3 linked regions of the Homo sapiens genome follow. The main gene of each other region encodes a partner of the protein of the gene in region 3 in a complex. Each region holds a gene or a part of one and is shown on either strand. Other genes may lie near its edges. The genes, in order: EIF2S1, EIF2B5 and EIF2S3. A codon is read from its position in the direction of its gene.

Region 1 (2,814 bases), on a different chromosome or scaffold from region 3:
AATTACACTGGCCATGCCATAATGTTGAATAAAACTCTCTTCTTATGAGGTTCTCTCTTAACTTCTTTGGAATTAGTAAAAGCTGACAATTTGTTTCTAGCTATTAGAATCCCATACAAAGTTTATAGTTTTCGAGCAACGTTTCAAGTATCTCTGTCATTAAGACATAGTTCATCTTAAAGTGGGGATGGTGGCCAAACTTTGTACATTGAGAATATTGTTTTGCTTTAGAAAACAAGCCTGCATAAATATTATACATTACAGAAGTCATGGACTCTGTCGGAGAACATAATCACGTATACGAAAAATACATTACATAGCTTTTCTATGAAAAATGGGCATTTAGCAATGCAGAGTAAGAGCGCTCTAAAGGACAGAAAAAGATGTAAATGGGGAAGATTTATATCAAGGCATTAAATTTTGGTTTTAAAATGAATATAAGCTGAGACAAATAGGTACCAAGAAACTTCACCAGTTGGAAGGTTAATCTGTAGTGAAAAGTCTGTATCATACAATACTTTTAAAGAACATTTTTATTACTTTCAAGTTTATACAGTAATCTGGCACAAGCTATTGCCAGCATTCCTGCCAAGTACAAATGCTTGGACCTCCCCTTAATCAACAGATAAAATACATAACTTACATTTAAGGGGAGTGGATACCTCAAAGTGCTTAAGTAAAAATTTGTTCTCTTTAATAGTTTGAACTGTCCCTTGTTAGTCGTGTCTAAAACATTGACCTGAATAATGAGAAATCACAAGCTAATGTTTTACTTATTCCTTATATGGTAAGAGACTACCTTTTAAAGCACCATTTTCCATTTGGCATTTCACCAAGGTCTAATGTCCCTGGAATTAGTTTTTTTGTTTTGCCTTTTGAATATCGATAGGTGTTCATCTGAATTAAACTACGTTTAGTTTGATGGCTTCCTGCCTCCAAATTGGCAACAGTGTACCTCACTTTGTATGGGAGCTATCAGGATCTCCATAGGTTGCAAAGTAGATGACCATTACCTTGGGGTTGGGGCAAATCAGTGAACAAGTCTCGGCAAGGTACTGGCATTTGTATTTTTAAAAAAATCTCTAGCCATTTTGTTCTTGGTGTAAAAGTAGAATGGCTGAAGTATGGCAGCTGAGTAATAACTGTTCTTCTTAGCATGATGTAGTGCTTAGCATGTCTCTATGGGTCCAACTTTGAACATTATTAAGAACTGGTTTGTCTTGTTTTGCTATAACTGATATGAAAAATGGTTTGGGTGGGGCATGGTGGCTCACACTCTTACAGAGGCAGAGGCAGGAGGATAGCTTGAGCCCAGGATTTCGAGACCTGCCCAGGCAATATAACACCATTTGCCAAAAAAAAAAAAAAAAAAAGAAAAAAGTGGTTTGAATATTCATATTTCTTCCTGGCCATTACTGATTTTCAATTAATTTATGCATAAATGAGACCCAAACTATCACTAATTTTCAGCTATATGAATTGATAGCCACTTGACATCAGTGAAAGGTACAGTAGGGAGTAGATGAAATTGTATTTTTAATGAAAAGGCTTTGATGGGAGATTCAAGATTTTTGGTTTTTTTTTTTTTTTTTGAGACAGGGTCTTGCCCTGTCACCCAGGCTCGAGTGCACTGGAGTGATCACAGCTCACTGGCCTCAAGTGATCCTCCTGCCTTGGCCCCTTAAGTGCCAGGGTTACAGGCATGAGCTACCATGCCTGGCAGAAATTCAAGATTTGGATAAACTTACTTCTTTGCCAAGCCTGTTCTTCAAGTTATTCAGAACTGGGTGTATACCTTGTCCTCATATGTATCTTGTCCCTGCTGTCTTTTAGGTTAGCAAGGTGTATGAATACTTTTAAGTTTTGTTTGTTCTTTTCCTCGTGGTATCAGTGAAATACTGATCTATTCTCTGGCTAGGGTCAATTTACAAAATTGCCATGGAACTGAGCAAAAGGCCCACGTGGGATAAAAATCACTCACCATCGACGCCACCAGTATTTTTCAAGTTATGGCTTTTGAAGTATAACAAATTTCAGTAAACAAAATCAAAAGAAAAAATTCCTCTGCGTACAACAAAGAAGCACCTGTTATATTTTGAATGCATTCTTCATGTTGCCAGCTTTCTAAACTTGTTTTTTTGATGCCTCAACAGACAGAAGTGAAAATTATATGCCACTCTTAAGTACATCCAGGTTCTCCTCTACATATTCCCAATATGGAATGCTGGCTAGCAATCATGGCACTCTCTCAGAAACCAGCCACTGGAAGTTAAAACTTCTGGATTTCAAAAGCTAGTACAGGCTGCTAAATTTAACAAAGGAACAAACCTTCATAAATGGTACAAACTACCTGCCCAACACACTCTTCTATTTTCCAGACCCTTTAATATTGAGTAGTCTAGTCTTGGATTGACTATGGTGGGTTAGGTCTAATCTAAGTATCTTAATAGCTATCTAGGGATAATGAATAAAATTAAATACAACTGGTACCTCAAGTATCATAAGAGAATAAATTTATGAAGACAAGCAGACCAAAGCAACTCAAGATTTTCTACACCTGACTACTGTAGCTGTAACTTCAAATAATGTGTTACCTATGAAACTTATTATGTACGAATTAGTTCTTAAAGACAGAAATGATGGAAACATGTAAAAAAAAAAAAACAACAGTAAGTGTTCAAACAGATCCCTGTTTTGTTATAAAGAACTGGAGCTCTAGGTGGCATCTAGTGGATATTTTAATAGCAATAAAAATAAAAAATTGGGTGATATTCCAACTAAATAAAAAATGCAGCTGCTTTTTAAAATTTAAAA
Region 2 (7,409 bases), on a different chromosome or scaffold from region 3:
GACTCTGTCTCAAAAAATAAAAGTAAAAATAATGAAAATAAACAGGGAGAAGAAATATACCCTGGCCTTCTAAGGGGACAATAACAGACCCACAGAGTTCTACTCTTTGGGTGTGCAGCCCCAGCCCTAAAGAGCTCACCTGAGGAGAACAGATGCTGATATGACAATCCAGTAAATCATATCGAACCTCCACTCCATCACTACTGCCCTGAAACAGGCTCTGTGGGGAGAAGTTACAAGGACTTTAATTTGTTTCTCCCACTGAAGCCTGTCACTTCCCCATCTCAAAGGACCCCAGATATCCACACACCAGAGGAAATGCAAAACGCCGGAGACCCTGGGTCTTCTGAAAATGGAGAACCCTGTTTGTGGTACTATCCACAGCCACTACCACATTGTCTTCGTGGCAACGAGTTGGGTGGCTGGGGGATGACTCCTTGAAGATCATCGTCATCACAGAAACATTTTTTTCTAGCTTCCGTCTCAACCTATAAAGGACAGGAGGGACAGAACTGCAAAAAAGCAGTCTCAGGGCTCTGCTGGTCTTTAACCCTTGTTCCTGTCATTTTCCCATCCTGACCTGTGTTCCTCAAGGGCTCTGGTGATATTGATGTTTGAGATGACATCCCCATACACCAGAAGAAAGTCAGAGCGCACCAAAGCCTTGGCATCAACATCACGGAGGACATCTCCCAGTGATCGATAGAGCTCTGATGTAATTATTCGAACCACATTGAGAGATGTAGGGCGGCACCACTTTGACTTCCTAAAGGAAGGGAGGGTGAGGGGAATGAGTGTATCAAGCATAAAGATCATTTGAGCCTTCCCCATTTTTCACCCCCTTTCAGCACTCACAGTCCTTCTCGATGGCTTTTTTGGGTTCTTGCCAGCGTCTTCAACTTCAAAGAGTATTATGAACTATAATGAATGCTTTCAGCATCCTGTGTCACCAGTCTTGTTTTATGGGTTAGGAAACATGGTTATTTCCTCTCCATACCTTGACCCCTTGTCCCTAAACATCAATTTGAACTCAAAATCCTGCTGAAGCCTAGGGTACACAAAGTAGCCTGGGAACACGCTTCACGTCAGCTTTCCCCTTCTGCAATCCATATAACATTTAGGAACTGTCTGATGGAGACCATGCTAATGTCCTAGTCTTTACATCCTGGACTTCCATAAGCAATGCGATTCCCTAGTTTTCAAGATTTCAACAAACATGTAAGTGCTCACTATATGCTTGGGACTGAGCTAGGCAGTGGGAATACAAAGATGACAAGGAGCTCATTTATATCCTTGAAGGTGAGAACAAACAAGATTTAGAAACTCAGTGGGAAAACAAAGATGTTATCATTGTAACTTCCATACTGAAGCCATTAAATAAAAGCAAAGTCCACTGGCACCAAACTTTATAATGAGATTCAGAAAAAACCCAAGTTTATTCTTTAATCTTTGTCACAGAAAACCCAAGACAGACAGATACAAAGTTTCAGCTGCTCACCTCCTGATAAGTGTAGAAAATACCCTTAGAACTTACAATGACATCTAAGTAGACACATTTTTCCCCTCTCACATTTCCCCTTAGTTACATTCATCCTGAAAAAACTGGAAAAAGATGGCGAAACATGGAAAGAAAAGTTGCAGGGCCTTACAGTAAATGTTCTTTGATTTGAGCAGCTTTCCAGCAACAAAAGACAAATGTTTCCTGTACACCTGTGGCAGTCAGGAATTCCAGAGTGTAGTCAATTAATGCCACATTGGCCAGGGGCAAGAGGACCTGAAGGATACAAGATGAAAAAAAACTTGAGGTCTCGAATCCCTTTGGGTACCCCACTGCAACAATTTTCACTCCTCTATTCGTATTTCCAAACAGTGTAATTTTGCTGTATCTTTCCAATTCAAAGATAAACAGGTTCCTGCCTTTGATGTTCATGCCATGCTCTAAGCCTGAGTCTGAGACATTGCAATTTGGGGATGGTAAGTACAGAATCTATGTGCCTTGTATCAGACACAGAGCTGTGACAGAATGGCAGTTCACTGCTGGCAAAGGATAATACTGGAAATCAATCATATTTCCATAAATTTAAGCATTGCTAAGGCCTTCTTCCCCATAAGATTTCCTTCCTTGATCCCTTTCTAAGTGTCAGAGGTTAGCCATCTCCCGTCACTTGTCAAAAATGAACAGCCATTAGGCTTTTTCGAGGGAATTAGAGAGGATTTTCCTTAAATCCAATGCAGTTCCCTCTTTCTGAACTGACTGCTGAACGACCCAGCTGAGTCCAATACCCCATTGTCTAGACAACTCGGGGGCTGATGGCAATCAACCACTAAACCCATTTTGTCCTTTCGACAGATAGCACCGGCTATCATTAGAACCTGGAAGGAAAAAAAAAATACACTGCCTGAGATCTAGCCCGCTCTTTTTAAGGCATATTACCGCCCTTTCAGAGGCAAAAGGTCGTTTCTTTTCACCTAAGCAACCGTCATCGGCAAGGTTAAAAGCGGCGCAGCCTCTTCTAGGGGCACTGAATCCCCGCGTGAAGGCTTCTCTCAAGCGCTGTTTCTACATTTAGCTCTCTTCATTCCTTTCAAACCCGAGGTGGACAGCATTACGAATGCCCAAATCTGCCGGCCACTAACTTGGTCAGCAGTCATCAGGGTTTAGACAGTCCCTCTGCATCCGGTTTTAGGATAACAGCATAGACGCAGGTCCTTCAAGGGCATGCTGTTGTAGTTAGCCGAAATGAGAACTTGCTCCAGCCCTGCCACCCTTCCTGCCCTCTGGCTGCTCGCGTGCGCGGCGCTCACCCGAGGCTGGTCCTTGGAGATGGGGAAGAAGCGGCGATCGAAGCTATCGGCCACCAGAACTGCTTGTAGGGGCGGCGGCGGTTCCTCCTCCGCCCCTCTGGCTCCCCCGCCACCGCTGCCTCCCGGCCCCGCGCCGCTGCGCTTGTTAGCCCGACTAACCACCACACCAGGCGGCGCCACTACAGGGGCCGCCATCTTCTTCTCTCACGGTCACCACTTCCGCAAGGAAGCTGCCACCGCACGCAGTAGGGGACAAAAAGGATCCAGCACTTGAAATGCGATGGACTAATTAACGAAGGGAAGGAGACGAGGAGGGAGCAGTGCGCATGCGTCTTCCCCGGGAGCCCACAGGGGTCTGAGGTTGATCCCGGAGGCGCGAGGAGTCGGTACGGGTCACGGTTGTCCCGGCCCCTGAGGCGCAGGGTAGGAGTGGGGTCCCATAGATGTCAGACTCGGTCTGCAAGTATCGTCGGCCTTCATTTGTAGGTGAACAAGCCGAGATTCTTGTGGCGTGATAGGACTTGTGGTCGCCACGAAGGGGCCAGCTCCATCGGGAATCTGTAATCGCCCAGCAGTTTCCCCGCCCCGCGCATGTGAAATATGTAGCCCTCCGTATTCATTCTAGAAACTTCTGGGAACCCAGCGCCTTGGGGAGATAGAACCGAGCCAGATGTTCCCCCGCTGCGAGGAACTCAGAACCTGCATAAATAGAGAAGGTGGCAGGCATATAGTAGGGAGACCAGTAATTCCATTGAGCGCTGATTTTGGGCCAGGCACGATACAAGCATTATCTCTGCAAAACATCTTATTCATTCGTTCAGCAAACGTTTCTTGAACTCTCAGAAGGATGAAGGAAGTTTACCCAGCTAGTAAGTGGAAGAACTGGTATTGGAACCCGATCTGTCTGACTGCAGAGTTCCACAATCTTGCTGCCAAGTTATGTGGGGATAACAATGACTATTTTATGTCATCTATTCATTCTTCCAGCCTATCAGCCTCCTGTGTCTTAAGCAGAGTGGAGACGGGGGTGGATCCAGGCGCACCAGTAAGTTGTACTGGAGTTAAGCAGTAAGCTTTCTGGGCAGAGGAAAGTGCGGGCGTAAAGGTCCAAGGCTTGAAAAGGCGCAGCAGCACCTTTTTCTCTTTGGGGAAAGAAGCGGTGGCTGCGGGGAATAAACCAACTCTGTAGAGGGGCGGGGCCGTGGGAAAGCGGTGGAACGGGGCAGGAAGGCTGGGCGTCATTTGGGAGGCAAGGAACTTTTCTGTAAGGCATAGCGCCCTTTCTGCACGGGACCTGTCCAGGTTCCACGCCACAGGCTTCTGCAGTTCCTGCAAACTGTTCCCATCCCGCCCCGCGTTGCACGTCGGGATTTGGAGTTCGCGATGCTGAGAGCTGTTTCCACGTGGCGATTCCGACTTGACCCGTCGTGCTCCGGCGCCCGCCTAGGGGGACCGAGGAGTTTGTCATTTCTTGCCTCGTTAGGGTGCGGAACGAAAACCATTTGATTTATCCTAGAAAAGGAAAGGCTGAAGCCAACTAAGTAAAAGTTTTCCATTAAATGAATGCACGTTGTAGAAAAGGAATGTTCAACTGCCCTACAAATCCAGAGGTAGAAATGGGGGAGGGGAGAAGGAATTAAATAGGACACACACACACACACACAAACACACACACACACACACTCTTGGGGGGGTGTTTGGGTATGGAAAGTAGGTCCGATTGCAGAATTTATTTTAAATGATTCCCGCAACCTTGGGAAGTTGGGAAGTGGTGAATCCGCTGCCGAAAGGCATTTGTGCTTATGGTAAATCCAGGTCTTAAAATTCTGTAGACTGGTAGCTATATGGATATGATTTTAATAGACGAGTTTCAGGAAGACTCTCTCAAACTGTTTTTTGTTGTTGTTGTTTAAAAACTTACTTGAAATATATTGGAAACCACATATACATAATCTCTCACACACACTACATAAAGAAGTAAAAATTCCTTTCCCTACTTCTTTCATCCTATCCAATTTGTAGAGTCATAACCATTCTTAATAATTTGATGGGTATTCATTTCTTCCCTAAATTTATATGTCTAGAACTAGAGCTAGAGTGTATGCCTACATACACACACACACACACCCATACATATATATTCAAACATAATATATGTATATCCACATGTATTCAAACACAGAATTATGTTTAGATAATTATGGTTATATGCTGGTATGCCAGAGCCAGACTGCCTGGCTTCGGTTCCAGGCCCTAGTTGGATAGCTTTGGGCTACTCAGCCTCTTTATGCCTGGACTTCTTCATCTTTGAAATGGGATAATAATAATACTTATCCCATAAAGTTATTGTGAGAATTAAATGAAATAATATATGAAAAGCCCTTAGAACAGGCATTGACACATTGTGAAGGTAATGTATTAGCTATTTTGATGATTATGCATTTTGTCTGCAACTTGATTTTTATTTAACATATGTGGGAAAGTAGACAAACATAGCCATTTTCAATGATTCCATAATATTCCATAGCACGAGTATACCATTGTTTATCGAACCATTTCTCTCTTGAGAAACATTGCAGATTTTTTTTGCAGTTTCTACGATTACAAATAATGCTGCAATAAACATCTTTCTACATATAGTCTTTATAAATTTGCGTTTATTTCTTAGAATTTATTATTGAATTAGAGTAACTGGTTCAAATTGGATGCAATTCCCATGGCAGAAGGTACATTGTTGAACTCACTGGCAAGCCTGATGAGGCACTGGTGGAATTCATGGAGATACTGCTTAATTGCTCTCCCTGGACAATGTGTCATTTTGCACTTACACCAGCAATGTATGAGAGCGCCTGTTTCCCCATAGCCTCACCAACAGAGTATTTTGTCAATAGTTTGGAGTTTCTGCCAATCTGTAAAGGAAAATAAGTGTAGTTTTAATTTGCATTTCTCTATTTCAGTGAGGTTGAACATTTTTTCATATATTTGGTCAACTGCCAGTTCTGGTTCTTTTTCTTTTTTTTTTTCTTTTTGAGACAGAGTCTCACTCTGTCTCCCAGGCTGGAGTGTAGTGGCACGATCTTGGCTCACTGCAACCTCTGCCTCCGAGGTTCAAGTGATTTTCCTACCTAGGCCCCCCTGAATAGCTGGGATTACAGGCTCACACCACTACACCTGGCTGATTTTTGTATTTTTAATAAAGGTGGGGTTTTGCCATATTGGCCAGGCTGGTCTCAAACTCCTGACTTCAGGTGATCCACCTGCCTTGGCCTCTCAAAGTGCTGGGATTACAGGTGTGAGCCACCGCACCCAGCCTCTTTTTCTTTTCTTTTCTTTCTTTCTTTTTGTTTAGAAACAGGGTTGTGCTCTGTTGCCCAGGCTGGAGTACAGTAGCACAATCATAGCTCACTGCAGCCTCAAACTCTTGGGCTCAAGCAGTCCTTCCTCAGCCTCCAGAGTAGCTGGGACAACAGGCACCTGCCACCACACCTAAGTTTTGTAGTTTTTGTAGAAATGGGGTCTTTCTGTGTTGCTCAGGCTAGTTCTGGTTCTTTCTCTGAATTTAGATTTCAAAATGAGTCTTGAATATGAAATCAGTTTAGAATATAATCTCTGTGGGCCTTCTGTTTATTTTATTCACTACTATACCCCAGGTACCTAGAAGAGTAACTGGCACATGGCAGATGCTCACTAAATATTTGTTGAACGAATGACTGGTTGTTGCTAGTCAGTAACTGAGTATGTGATCAACTGTAGACAAACAAAAGTAATTCCTGACTCTCCCAAGGCTGAGGCTGTTTTTAAAAGATTATGGTAAAAATACAACAAAACATAAAAGTTATCATCTTAACAATTTTTTAACCTTGGCATGGAAAATTGATCGAAGTTGGCCATTTTTAAGTATACAACTCTGTAGTGTTACTTATGTTCACGTTGTTGTGCTACCATCACCAACATCCACCCACAGAACTCTTCATTTTGTAAAACTGATACTCTGTACCCATTAAACACAATCCTCATTTCCCACTCAGTCCAGCTCCTGGCAACTACCATGCCACTTTCTGTCTCTGTGAATTTGACTGCCCTAGGTCCCTCATATAAGAGGAATCACATAGTATTTTTTTTGTATCTGCCTTATTTCACTTAGCATAATGTCCTCAAGGTTCATCCATATTGTTGCATGTTTCAGAATTTCCTTCCGTTTAAAGGCTGAATGATAATCCATTGGCTGTAGATACCACATTTTATTTATCCATTTATCTGTCAATGGACACTTCTTCGGTTGTTTCCCCCTTTTGCTATTGTGGATAATGCCACTACGAACGTGATCGTACAAATATCTGTTCCAGTCCCTGTTTTCACTGAAATAAATGGAACTACTGTATCATATGGTAACTCTACATTTAATTTTTTGAGAAATTGCCATACTTTTTTTCATTTTTCTTTTCTTTTCTTTTTTTTTTTTTTTTTTTGGTTTTGAGATGGAGTCTTACTCTGTCACCCAGGCTGGAGTGCAGTGACACGATCTCGGCTCACTACAACCTCTGCCTCCCGGGTTCAAGCAATTCTCCTGCCTCAGCTTCCCTAGAAGCTAGGATTACAGGTGC
Region 3 (7,125 bases):
CTCTGGCTTCAAGTTCTATTAAAATAAGGTCCATTTACTTCCTATCTGTATATGCCCATTACACTCAGTACAGTGCTTTACAAATTTGCTAATTCATGTGGATGTCTGAAATTAATTATAATAGAATTCTGGTTTCAAATCTTACATGAGATTAATTACAATGTCTATATTTTAAGTCTTATTCCAAAATTTCTGGTAGAAGGTACCTACAAAACACATGGGGACATGTTAGATATAAAATTAGTTTGATTTAGAATTGTTTTATTTGTGTTCCTCATGCTACAACACAACCTTCAAAGTCAGCGAAGTTTATAACATTAATATGCTTCCTCAAAACATCAATTTAGGCAACCCATAGCCAGAGCTTCTAAACTTCTACAATGCAACTTCAACATTCACAAGAGCACAATATGCTTCAAATCCCATCTCAATGCAAATTTAAGAAAAGCAAAGCAAATTGTATTATCAGTCTACCAAAACTCAGTAAGATTCTGTAATTTAATATACCTACTTCTCAACTCTCTAAATTTGTTTCTCAACACTGGGGAGTTTTTAAAGATATCAATGCCTGAATTCTACTCCAAGCCAATTAAATCAGAACAATTAAAATCAGAATCTCTGTGGGGCATCTTTTTTTTTTTTAAAGCTTCCCCAGCAACGTCAGCAAGAGTTGCAAATCACTGCTCAACAGAACCTCTTACGAAGCAAAAACATAAAGAAAAATAAGCCGGGCAGAGTGGCTCACGCCTGTAATCCCAGCACTTTGGAAGGCAGAGGCGGGCGGATCACCTGAGGTTAGGAGTTCAAGACCAGCCTGGGCAACATGGTGAAACCCCATCTCTACTAAAAATACAAAAATTAGCCGGGTATGGTGGCAAGTGCCTGTAATATCAGCTACATGGGAGGCTGAAGCACGAGAATCACTTGAATCAGGGAGGCAGAGGTTGCAGCGAGCCAAGATCGTGCCACTGTACTCTAGCCTAGGTGACGGAGTGAGCCTCCGTCTCAAAAAAAAAAAGGAAAAGCACACGAAGTATAGGGACATGGGGAATAAGTTAAAAATCAAAAGGACTCACTCATTGCTTTCTAACATCTTTTACTTCTTGACCTTTTGAAACATCCAAAAATTAGTAGTAGTATAATCTATGTCACAATCATAATATAACAGTTAAGAAAAAACATAAAATGAAGGCCTAAAAAGATCTTTGTTACTCATCTAGAATTATTTGGTATAACAGTATTTTCCCATGGAGGAAGACTTGGATTTCAGGCATTAAACAACGCAGAAAAAAATCTCAAGGCATCACAGGGAGAGGGAGATAACTTTTGACTCTGGTTTCCCGTGTTTCAGGCCAGGAAGAGCAAGGGGAGAAAAATATTTGTCCATGGGAACAAGTAATCATGCTCTAAAGGACAATTTCATTCGAATCCATTCATTTCCTTTTCATGCAAAATTTCAAAGATAAAGCAACATAAAATATGGGGCCACATAAAAGGGAGAAGGTCTTCAAGGAGAATTTGTGCCTTTAAGTTTTTACTGGTACAACAGTCTTTCAGCCTGGAGGTACTCAAAGACGAATCATGAAAAAGAAAAAAAACTTTATTTCAAACAGGTTCAGTGATATATGTGTGTGCTACAGCAAAGGCTGGTTGTGGCAAAGTTTCATTTCAAACTGTATGATGTGGGCTGGGCAAGGTGGCTCACGCCTGTAATCCCAGCACTTTGTGAGGCCGAGGTGGGCTGATCACCCTGAGGTCAGGAGAGACCGGCCTAGCCAACATGCTGAAACCCCGTCTCTACTAATAATACAAAAATTAGCCAAGTGTGGTGGCGCGCACCTGTAATCTCAGCTACTCGGGAGGCTGAGGCAGGAGAATCGCTTGAACCCGGGGGGCAGAGGTTGCAGATCACGCCACTGCACTCCAGCCTGGGTGACAGAGCCAGACTCAAAAACAAAACAAAATAAAACAAACAAAAAAACAGAACTGCATGATGTATAATTTTGACATTATGTGGGAATGTTTAACTTCTGCCAAAATGTAGATTCAATCCAACATTATGCCAATTTTTATATTAATTTTAGTCCCTAAGTTTTCATAACCAAAAAAAAAAAAAAAAAAAAAGAGAATAACCTTACCGTTACCTACTAAGGTAACGAACTGTGAAATCAATTCCCCAATATTGCTTTGAAAATAAACCCCTTGGTTGTTAAGAGGAATTCCAACTTCCAAATCCATCCGAATGTATTATTTAACTGGTATTCTTCAGTCATCATCTACTGTTGGCTTGATTGTCACTCCTCTTCTTATCTGACCCCAACCAATTAAACTGCAAAATGAAAATAAAAGAAATCATAAATCTTACATCCACTTCACTCTCATTACCACACAATCTTGTGATAAATTTTACCTGCTTATCTTCTGAATTCAAATTTGTTCCCAAAGCCTGCTCCTCCATAAAGAAAGCCCACACTATATTCTTAGATTCTTTTTTATTCTTGCTTTTGTGTGTTTTTTCTGAGACAGTCTCACTCTGTCACCCAGTCTGGAGTGCGGTGGTACGATCTCGGCTCACTGCAACCTCTGGCTCCTGGGTTCAAACAATTCTCATGCCTCAGCCTCCCGAGTAGCTGGGACTACAGGCATGCGCCACCATGCCCGGCTGATTTTTTGGTATTTTTAGTAGAGATGGGGTTTCACTATGTCGGCCAGGCTGGTTGCGAACTCCTGGCCTCAAGTGATCCGCCCACCTCGGCCTCACAAAGTGCTGGGCTTACAGGCATGAGCCACCGTGCCTGGACTGAAAGTTTATTGCTTAAATCTATTTCAAAATACACTGGAAGTCGTGTGTCTGTAATAGCAAAAAAATATAATCACAAAAGACAGTAAAATCAAAAGGGCATAAGTCACCACAAATAATTATTTACTTAAGAGACAACAAAAATTTAACTTTCTAAATTACAGGGCAATAATTCAGATAAATCTCCTGGACAAGTGATGAGACCATCGTGGGCACAGTAGCATGGAAGCCTTAATAAAGGAAACAGGGCTGGGCGGGGTGGCTCATGTCTGTAATCCCAACACTTTGAGAGGCTGAGGTGGGAGGATGGCTTGAGGCCAGGAGTTTGAGATCATGCTGGGCAACACAGTGAGACCAAGTGTCTACAAAAAACAAAAAAATTAGCTGATCACGGTGGTGTGAGCCAATAGTCCTAGCTACTTAGACACTGAGGCTGCAGTGAGCTATGATCATGCCACTAAACTCCAGCCTGGTCAACAGAGAGACCCTGCCTCTAAAAAATATAAAATAAATAATTAAGGAAGTAGATAGTGGGTAGGGGTGATGTGAATAATTATGGGGACAGTTAGGGCACAAAACAGTCTAATTTAGAGGGTTTATATAAGACAATGCAGAAGGAAAGCTTAAATGGGTTGAAGCAGGTTTCTAGAAAAGTCCCAAATATCAAAAAGTAGTGAGAAGACTCTAGAAATTATTAAACACAGCATGATGAAAATGTTTTAAGAAGACTAATTTTGACCAAGTTAAGAGGCAAACTAGGAGTCTTTCGCACTAACTGTGAAGTGTAAAGTGATGGTGGTATGGACTGTGATGAGGTGACGAGGAATGGAAAGCAAGGGGCAAACTCAATAACCTGGGAAAGAGCAAAAAGTCAGGAGCCAAAAATGTGTGTATGCTTCCTGGCTCTATGCTCTCAAAAGACCTAGAAGCAACAGCACCCTAAGAGCCATGAGCACACCTGAACACTCAGCTTTTCATTTATAAGAGAAATGGCCAGTTCTAAAACTGGAACAGAGAAGGTACAAGATGAGTCTGGAAGATTTTGTGCCAGAAAATAAGGAAATGTTCCAAAAAAAAGAAGAAAGAGGTCAGGCGTGGTGGCTCATGCCTGTAATCCCAGCACTTTGGGAGGCCAAGGAGGGCGGATCACCTGAGGTCGGGGGTTAAAGACCAGGCTGGCCAACGTGGTGAAACCCCGTCTCTACTGAAAATACAAAAATTAGCCGGGTGTGGTGGCGTGTGCCTGTAGTCCCAGCTACTCGGGAGGCTGAGGCAGGAGAATTGCTTGAACCTGGGAGGCAGAGGTTGCAGTGAGCTGAGATCATGCCACTGCATTCTACCCCGGCGACAAAGCAAGACTCCATCTCAAAAAAAAAAAAAAAAAAAAAGAAGAAGAAAAAAAAATGATGAGTACATGTCAAAAGGACACAAGAGCCAGCCTGAAGGACCTCCACTGGCCAAACGTCGAACAATGCACATCAAAATAAAGGAAGACAGTGATGGATCATAACATGTTGAATAAAATAGGACTCCATGAGTCCATATTATAACTAGATAGGGAAATAAATAATGGCAAAGAAAGAATGCCAAATGATAAATGTGGGGTGGTAGAGTTGAGGGAGGATACTGCAACCCGTAGAGGTGCTATGATTTTGTAATCATTATAGTCAAGTTCGATTCAGGCAAGAATCATCAGTGGATGCTACATCCAGGGGTGTGGGATTCAATGATCAGCAGGCTATTTGTACTGGCTAGAAAGATCTCCCTACAGATTGCTTATTAGTTGCAAGGGTAGAGAGTAACTACACAGCAGAGAAGCTGGACAACATCTTGACTACATAGTCAAAACTAACCTTAACAAAGAGGAGCAGTCAGATATCATGTGCCTCTAGCTGTGATTCCTGAAAAGGAGACTTCACGGTGTATTTAAGTTAAGAATATATAACTGAATCTAATGTTAGGCTTCCGAATGATAAGAAAAACCCAAATTGAGGAATATTCTATAAAGTAACTAGTTTGTATTCTTCAGAACTGTTAATGTCAATTAAGACAAAGGCTGAAAAAGCTCCAGATTAAAGATCAAAGAGACATGAAATTAAATGCAATTCAAGATTCTAAACAGGAGGAACATAAAGTACATTATTGGGACAAGTAATAAAACTGAAACATGCACTGTAGATTTCAGTATTTTGCCAATGTTAAATTTCTAAGTGGTTACATAAGAATATCCTTTTTTGATGGGAAATATACACTGAAGTATTAAGAGATCAAGAAGCATAACATATATAGCCTACACTCAAATGGTTCAGAAAAAAACTTATATATGTAAATAAATCTGTATGTGTGTTTGTCAATCTAGGAAAAAGCTATAGAGGAGTTTTCTGTAAAACTCTTACAATTTTTCTATTAAGTGTGAAATGATTTCCAAAGCCAATGACGATAGAAATACCGAACCCAAATTCATTTGGTTTTGCATAGGTTGTGTCTAACAGGAAGAGAAGCCAATCACAGTATTTGGACTAAAATATGGGACTATAGTCAAGGTTGTAGTTTTTTCTGAGACGGAGTCTCGCTCTGTCGCCCAGGCTGGAGTGCAGTGGCGCCATCTCGGCTCACTGCAAGCTCCGACTCCCAGGTTCACGCCATTCTCCTGCCTCAGCCTCCCGAGTAGCTGGGACTACAGGCGCCCGCCACCACGCCCGGCTAATTTTTTGTATTTTTTAGTAGAGACGGGGTTTCACCATGTTAGCCAGGATGGTCTTGATCTCCTGACCTCATGATCCACCCGCCTAGGCCTCCCAAAGTGCTGGGATTACAGGCGTGAGCCACCGCACCCGGCCGAAGTATAGTTTTCAAAGTCATCCAAATAAATAGTTGAGACTGAAAGCCACAGTAACTGTTGTCCTCAAGGAAGATTGTGTGCTTTTTTTTCTGTACAAGACTGTGTCTTTTTTTAATTAGACAGTGGCAAAGACTAACAAACTTACCGCCAGTGTTTTTCAACTCTTCGGCTAAGGGCAATTTTTTCTCCTACCTCTGTGCACACTGGATTGGTCAAAACAATTTTACCCAAATCGGCCTTGACAGCACTAACTCTCCCTCCTGTTGACAGGGATCCTATGTTCACCATGAGCACTTCATTCTTAGACAGCTTTTGAACCTAGAAAAATAAATTAGGGAAAAATAAACCCCAAAATCAAGAAAATGCTTTCCAAATGTAAGTAAGAATTTACCAAATACTATTGGGAAATATGTCAATCATAAAAAAAATTCTATAGAAATTTCATTGTAAAGGAATTTGAACTATATATAGTATAGTTTATTTGGCACCCACTGAATTTACACAAGATCTACCTTTAAAAAATAGGGTAGTAACCGTACCAGAGTACCTCTTAAAATTCTGAAGCAGTTACCTAGTACAAATGAGGTACAAAATTTCCCAAAGAGGGGAGCATGAAGGACTATGGCTATATAAGAGTTAATATGGGCCAGGCGCAGTGGCACACGCCTGTAATCCCAGCACATTGGGAGGCCGAGGAAGGCAGATCACCTGAGTGGGGGGAAAAAAAAGCATGATAGCTTATTTTCCTCAATCTTTGCCAACACTAGGTGTCAGCAATTTCCCATCTCTGCCAACCTAATCTGGGACATTTTTTAAAAATCATGAAGCTGGGCGCAGTGGATCACACCTGTTAATCCCAGCATTTTCGGAGGCTGGGGTGGGCAGATTGCTCAAGCCCAGGAGTTGGAGATCAGCCTGGGTAATGCGGCAAAACTCCGTCTCTACAAAAAATACAAAATTAGCCAGGCGTGGTGACCCACACCTGTAGTCCCAGCAACTCAGGAGGTTAAGGTGGGAGGATGGCTTGAGCTGGGAGATCGAGGCTGCTGTGAGTCGAGATCGCACCACTGCACTCCAGCCTGGGCAACAGAGCAAGACTCTGTCTCAAAATAAACAACAAAACAAAAATATGGATTTTAGGAATATCATGTCTTTGTCATAAATGGCTAATACTTTTCCCTGTTTATTAAGTTTCTTTCTTAAACTAACTGCCATATAGTTCTCAATTTTGGCCGGACGCAGTGGCTCATGCCTGTAATCTCAGCACTTTGGGAGGCCAAGGCGGGCGGATCACTTGAGGTCAGGAGGTCAAGTCCAGCCTGGCTAACATATAGTGAAACCCCATCTCTACTAAAATATACAAAAATTAGCTGGGCGTGCTGGTGCGTGCCTGTAGTCCCATATACTTGGGAAACCGAGGCAAGAGAATTGCTTGAACCCAGGAGGTGGAGGTTGCCGTGAGCCGAGATCGCGCCACTGCACT

What was found.
Region 1: the proteins of EIF2S3 (region 3) and EIF2S1 are in contact, whole or in part, in a cryo-EM structure (PDB 6K71), measured with the Homo sapiens proteins. Residues at the interface, in NP_001406.1 of Homo sapiens: Asn265, Lys266, Pro267, Gly268, Cys269, Glu270, Val271, Asp272, Asp273, Leu274, Lys275, Pro313, Ile314, Phe315, Lys317, Lys342, Ile343, Asp344, Pro345, Thr346, Leu347; in NP_004085.1 of Homo sapiens: Tyr200, Gly201, Tyr202, Ile205, Val208, Lys209, Leu212, Gly215, Leu216, Ser219, Ile227, Asn228, Leu229, Ile230, Tyr235.
Region 2: the proteins of EIF2S3 (region 3) and EIF2B5 are in contact, whole or in part, in a cryo-EM structure (PDB 6K71), measured with the Homo sapiens proteins. Residues at the interface, in NP_001406.1 of Homo sapiens: Glu72, Leu73, Glu74, Arg75, Thr78, Pro166, Gln167, Pro168, Thr170, Ser171, Glu172, Ala175, Glu178, Ala209, Phe210, Gln212, Thr214, Lys303, Asp304, Arg352, Phe376, Leu378, Arg379, Arg380, Leu382, Gly383, Arg385, Glu387, Val403 (codon at 5,936), Met405 (codon at 5,930); in NP_003898.2 of Homo sapiens: Glu126 (codon at 711), Tyr128 (codon at 705), Asp137 (codon at 678), Ala140 (codon at 669), Lys141 (codon at 666), Gln255 (codon at 142), Gln258, Leu259, Asp262, Asn263, Phe264, Asp265, Asn279, Asn285, Asp549, Phe553, Glu556, Thr560, Arg563, Glu567, Asn573, Leu576, Glu577, Asn579, Ser580, Leu581, Lys582, Tyr583, Ala584, Tyr585.

What each region holds. Positions count from the first base shown.
Region 1 is NC_000014.9:67,384,218-67,387,031, reverse strand, and holds the end of EIF2S1 (eukaryotic translation initiation factor 2 subunit 1), read right to left. Parts: 3' UTR 516-2,814; downstream 1-515. UniProt on the Homo sapiens protein: Member of the eIF2 complex that functions in the early steps of protein synthesis by forming a ternary complex with GTP and initiator tRNA. This complex binds to a 40S ribosomal subunit, followed by mRNA binding to form a 43S pre-initiation complex (43S PIC).
Region 2 is NC_000003.12:184,130,977-184,138,385, reverse strand, and holds the start of EIF2B5 (translation initiation factor eIF2B subunit epsilon), read right to left. Parts: upstream 3,029-7,409; 5' UTR 3,001-3,028; coding exon 2,806-3,000; intron 1,775-2,805; coding exon 1,650-1,774; intron 767-1,649; coding exon 581-766; intron 489-580; coding exon 311-488; intron 221-310; coding exon 140-220; intron 1-139. UniProt on the Homo sapiens protein: Acts as a component of the translation initiation factor 2B (eIF2B) complex, which catalyzes the exchange of GDP for GTP on eukaryotic initiation factor 2 (eIF2) gamma subunit.
Region 3 is NC_000023.11:24,071,926-24,079,050, reverse strand, and holds the end of EIF2S3 (eukaryotic translation initiation factor 2 subunit 3), read right to left. Parts: intron 5,961-7,125; coding exon 5,788-5,960; intron 2,330-5,787; coding exon 2,266-2,329; 3' UTR 241-2,265; downstream 1-240. UniProt on the Homo sapiens protein: Member of the eIF2 complex that functions in the early steps of protein synthesis by forming a ternary complex with GTP and initiator tRNA.